Linked DNA regions of Homo sapiens: region 2 is linked to region 1. The links come from fine-mapping of genetic effects on gene expression. A gene starts in region 1. The other region holds a variant in brackets. All regions are shown on one strand. Distances are between the middles of the regions.

Evidence for each region. PIP is the estimated chance that this variant, and not a neighbour inherited with it, causes the effect.
Region 2: its variant is fine-mapped to the expression of HNRNPC in CD8 T cells (Kasela 2017, PIP 0.95). The same link has a PIP of 0.9 or more in B cells and monocytes.

The regions. Positions count from the first base shown.
Region 1 is chr14:21,267,721-21,270,642 of GRCh38, reverse strand. HNRNPC (heterogeneous nuclear ribonucleoprotein C) reads left to right here and starts at 1,201. Exons shown (of 9, transcript NM_004500.4): 1 at 1,201-1,345. RefSeq lists enhancers at 472-1,097, 1,201-1,460, 1,098-1,722 and a silencer at 1,031-1,110.
Region 2 is chr14:21,207,786-21,210,707 of GRCh38, reverse strand. It overlaps HNRNPC (heterogeneous nuclear ribonucleoprotein C), which reads left to right. Exons shown (of 9, transcript NM_004500.4): 9 at 1-1,561. Among named protein-coding and RNA genes, the nearest start is that of LINC00641, 2.3 kb to the right of the region's middle. The variant T/G (reference allele first, on the strand shown) is at 1,609.

The DNA of each region.
Region 1 (2,922 bases):
CGGATCACCTGAACAGTCTGGCCAACATGGCGAAACCCCATCTGTACTAAAAATACAAAAATTAGCTGGACATGGTGGCGCGCACCTGTAGTTCCAGCTACTCAGGAGGCTGAGGCAGGAAAATCGCTTGAACCCGGGAGGCGGAGGTTGCAGTGAGCCAAGATCGCGCCACTGCACTCCAGCCTGGGCGACAGTGACTCTGCCTCAAAAAAAAAAAAAAAAAAAAAAAAAAAAGAAAAGAAAAAAGAAACCGCTGGCTTAGTAGAGCTGATGCTACCCCACTGCGTGCGCAGTTCCTATAATGTAACCAGAGAGACTGGCAGGTGACGGGGGTAGGTAGGAGACAAGCCATTTCAAGAGGAGGGAAATTAAGGGACCAGATTTGGAAGGATGGGCCAATTTTGCTGGCACTTAAGATATTAGATGCCCTGGGGCCAGAGGCCAGGATTCTGCACTTCCTTTTTATATTGGAGAGGAATAAGGAAGTCAGTTGGTTTCGATGGAACATGTGTTGTCTGAAGAAGGGTTTAATAGGCCAAGAAGCAGATGTCTACGAGGTAGCTGACATTCGAATCTGGAACTGAGAAAGGGTCTGGGGTTGGAAAAACTGCAGGACTGGTTAGTTTTCTACACACTTTAACAAGGCCTAGTCACTGCTGCTCCCTCCTCATTTTAAGAAAAGTCCTTTCTTTATTCACATTGCACAACGGAGGCTTCATTTCGCGCTTTTTTTTCCCTAGGCCCGGGGCTGGGGCAGGTCTTTTGCGCCCGTCACCTAACTACGCCCCTCAACCCTTTCCCCGCCCCCGCGCAGCCGGAAATCCGAGGTCTGGGCGGATCTTCTACTAGGCACTCTAAGGGGCAGCGATAGGACGCCGCGGCCGCCAATCAGGCCTCCCAGATACCCGGATGTGAGACGGTGCGCGATACAAAGGCGAGTTTCCACCCAGAGGGTCGTCCCGTGCAATAGCCAATAAGCATTCTCCAGGCAATAAATGACAGGAAAACTAACCAGTTATAAACTAGTTTCTCTCACGCATGTGGAAATTCGCCTGCTTAGTCTAACCCACTGCTAATTGTGATTGGATATCATTGTGAGGAGCGGTTGAACTGTCTAATTAGGAGCGGGAGCGAAAAAACGCACAGCCAATAGGAAGATTCTCAGGAATGGGGCGGGGACTAGGCCTTCGCCTCGGCGGCAGAGGAGACTCGGGGGCCATTTTGTGAAGAGACGAAGACTGAGCGGTTGTGGCCGCGTTGCCGACCTCCAGCAGCAGTCGGCTTCTCTACGCAGAACCCGGGAGTAGGAGACTCAGAATCGAATCTCTTCTCCCTCCCCTTCTTGGTAAGTGGAGAGGGCGGACGCAGGGAAGGCGCTGGGTTTTTCGGGAAGCGAGAGGGGGTGTGGGAGAGAAGATGTGGGAATCCTTCCCCCTAACTAACCGGGCCCTCATTTATTCTGCTTGTTTTGGGGGATTAGGTTGAAGCCGGGGGCAGTTTTATAGGCCTCAGCCTCTGTATAGGTTTAACCTGGTGTCCTCTAGGCCACGATCGCCAGGGAAAATGTCCTTTTTTCGCTCTTCCTGTGTTAACGGCTGCTTTCCTTTCATTTTCTACGACCGCGAGGACTACGGGATCATGAAAATGAAGATCGTGATGCTCATTAATATAGTCGAAGTTAACGTAGCGCCGATGCCTTCTATTACCTCCGTTCTTCTTACATGTAAAAAGTGGGGGAGGGGAAGGGGGAAGGTTACCAAGTAGATGTATCGCGAGCCTTTAAATCCTGGATCGTGCCGCGTGGCCTACGAGAAAGGTTTAACAAAAGATTCAGCATTTTACTGATAACTTTTTATTTTATTTCTCTCTATGAGCAAATGATGGAGCTCGAAGTAGTTATTTTCACTTACATTTGTAAAAGGAAATATTGTGATATAACTATATTAATATTTACAGCTGACTTTTCATCTGCAGGTTACAAAACACTTGAAATATATAAGTTAGTGGAACTTTGCTTGAGGTAGGTATTAACTCTCTTTCTCAGACGGAAACTGAGGCAGAAAAGTGTTGGTTGCTAGGGTCATATTAAGTCAGTAGCAGCACTAGTAAGGAATTTGACCACGAGGTCAGTCGAGTGGTTTTTACCTAGTTAATGGAATACCTAGTTAATATAGTTCTAAAACTACTGTATTGCAATCTTTGCCAAGAACCTGATGACGGAAACCACGAGGTAACTGGAAATTCCCAAATTGCGCTTAAGAAAAATACTACGAGACTTGAGAATTTTTTAACGTAACTTCCTAAGTGTAAGATGACAAAATTTGACTTTCGGGATATTCTGGCGTTAATTTTCCCGTCCGCCTAAATGTGGGCAAAAATTCACAGCTACGTTATATTAAGCAAATATTAACAGTGCCTATTATTTGCTGGGTGCTGAAATTTGATAAAAAACTTAAAAGTTAAAAAAAATTGTTTAGATCTTTAGTGTCACATTGACTTATCTGGGACATCGCTTTTTTTAATCCTCACATGAGATTTGGCTAAGTTTATTTTTCACAATCTGTTAATCTCACAAAAACTAAAGCTGTTAAGCACAGTTTAAACCCATTCTGCAGGGTAAGAAATTCATCTGTAAGGCAATCTATTTGATAGGAAGTAAAATAAGGGTCAAAAACATCGCGACCCCTTTCTTAAGGCTTAAACATGTATATTATTACAGGAACTTAAAACTAAAGTTTATCATTGTGCTGAACTGTTAGAAATGAGGTTAGGGTAAAAATGGGAAATCATGAAGTAAAAATGTTGGCAAGGAGAAATGTCAGAAATTAGTATTTAAGAACTGTTAATAGTAGTTGAAATTGATTGACGGGCACTTTTCTTTGAGGTTTTCGAAAATGGGTTCCTTCCGGTCAGTATGTATAT
Region 2 (2,922 bases), 60 kb after region 1:
GTCAAATGCATCCTCTAGAAAAATAATTAGTGTTATAGTCTTAAGATTTGTTTTCTAAAGTTGATACTGTGGGTTATTTTTGTGAACAGCCTGATGTTTGGGACCTTTTTTCCTCAAAATAAACAAGTCCTTATTAAACCAGGAATTTGGAGAAAAAAAAAACCCTGGTTTTTTATTTTTGTATTTTATTATTGTTTACTTCAAACTTTGTTTTACAGCGTCCTCCACAAAACCTCTAGAATGCACTAGATATATTTTTCTTGGAGTCATAATCATGATGCATACCAACACAACACTACTCAAATTATATTTCATTGAGATGCATGTTGCATTGAGGAGTCAACTTGACATAGAGTGGAGACTTTTTCAAAATGGCTTTTACATCCTAATGAAAGTTTGGGAAGTATATCCTCTCTGCCTTTTCATCAGTGCTTTGTGGTCCAGCTGGCACCCTTTCTGAGGTTTGTGTTTTGTGCTAAATGGTTTTGTCCTTAAATAGGAGAGGCTCAAAAACATCAAGATTTCAGGAAAATGGCGACAGCTGCATAATGGAACCCCCCTGCTTCTATTTTGTTCTTTTAATTACTATTTATAGCCCCAGTTACCTTCTGAATTCTGAAGTGTATATACCTCCATGTTCCTGAAAACAAGAAAACTCTTACTTCCTGATATTCCATAGACTGCCTTCCCAGGTGATTGAGAACATAGAGAATGTTACACATTTATTTTACTCTAAATGATCTTTTACCCCTGTTAGCTAATCTTTGTGTTTTCCTCAACTTTATTAATTACAGTGATTGCATTTTTAGCATCCAGTTGTAAGATGAATATATTAAACAGCTACCAGTGTTGGTGATACCTCATCCTTGAAAGGCTTAGTTCATTTGTGTTTTATACTTCAGTTTTTCCAGCATAGCAGAAAATGCCGCTTATAATTTTTGTGCACACAAACCTTGGATTCCCCTGTAAAGTTGCTATTGTTTCATAGCATGCGGCACTGGCCTTTTTTCATCCTACTCATTACAGGCAAAACTCATGTCTTATTTATGAGGATTTTATAGATCATTTTCTGTAACAGGTGACAAAAGCAGAAAAGAATGAAGAGGCTGAAGTATGAACTACCCTTGGAGCCCATATACATGATATAGGCAATTTCTTTTGTATGTTAATTCAGTCAAAAATACTACCCACTTGATGTTTTCTAATCTGATGTGAGCTCATGTTACACAGACTTTTAGTAAGTAACCCGTGACTAGAAAATAAACTGGATGCTTAGGAGAGAGTGTCAGATGTATAAGATGCTAATAAAACCTGTTTAATATTATTGTTAGCTGTAAGTTTTTGGGAAATACTGAACAAATTAGTCCACAATCAAGTGTCTACTTTTCCCTTCACTGTAGGGCCTCTCCCTGCACAGAGCAGTCTGTTTAGCTGTGAACACCACAATCTGCAGATGTTCAAGTCCCTTACATAAAATGGCATAGTATTTATATGTAACCTATGCATATTCTCCTGTATATTTTAAATCATCTCTACATTAAAATACCTGATAAAATGTAAATGGTATGTAAATAGTTGTAACTTTTTTTATTTATATTTTTGTTAACT[T/G]TTTTTAGTTTTTTTTCTTTGCTAGTATTTTCGATCTGTAGTTGGCTGAATCTGCATGTGCAGAACCCATGAACATGGGGGGCCAACTATACATTTTATTCTAGGAAAGCAGGTATTGAATGAAGCTGTGGAGAGCGCTTTTTAATATTAGGTTGGTGCAAAAGTAATTGTGGCTTTTGCCATTACTTTTAATTAGCTGCAGTTACTTTTGCAAATAGCCGTAGAGCATGATCACAGATTGAAAATCTATACACACATATGGTAGGGTTGTTGGAATACTGACATGTCTAGTTTGTGTTGATGGGGAAGTCATTTCACGCTCTTGGTTTTAGGCTACGCTACTGTGGCTTAAATTTCCTCGTGTTTAAGACAACAGTACTCTAGGTTTTCTATAATCACAGGTGTACTCATTGAGTACTTTGACATTTAGGTTCCTAGGCCAAAACTGTAGCAAAGTAAAGAGACCAGGATTGAAATACCACATGGTAAAAGGCTTTTAAAAATCTGATCTAATGCAGATAAGTACAGGCTTTTTGGGAAAGGGGCTAGTGTTTTTAAAGGCCATTTATCAGATGATATGCTTATAGTCAGTGTGACATTACTTAACCCTGGGCCCTGCAAAGTAAGAATTGAGTTGGCTCAATAGAAATTCAGAATAGTAGGCATGGCAGTGCAGGTAAAGGGGTTAGATCTGACGGTAATAATTGAGTGATTTCTGATTTAATAATTGAGGGATTTCAGATTGATAGTCTGATTACACTGCAGTAGTGGAAGTAAGATTTAAAAGTAAAAACATTTTAATTTGGGATAAAATTCAGAACACAAGTTTCTCAATATGCCATGAAATCTAAGAAAATGTCCTGCAATCATTCAAGAATGCAGTTTTCATTTCAGGGTTAGAAAGCAGGAGAGGAGGTAGATAAAAAATCCTTAGTAACATTTTTTTCTGGTGCTGCATAACGTATAATTGGGAAACTTCTTCTAGGGTAATTAATAAATTGCTGCTGTCTCAGTGGGATGAGCTAACTGGAAGCTGTCAGGTGGGAATGGATGCTAAATTTGGGATTCTCAAAAGGAGGGCTCCTCTTGTATTTCACTTCTGATGTTAATATTACCCCAACATGCAAAGATTGTGTGATTAGTACCTATTACTTACGTGGTTTAAATCCTCTTTTTCAGAGGGAACCGGGTGTAATAGAAAAGGAAAATAATGTAAATGGGAACAAAAAGGTGGTAAATTGGAAGGAAATGAACAGGTGTCAAATTAGGATTGGGAAGAATGTAATAGTACAATAGACGTAACCATCATTTAAA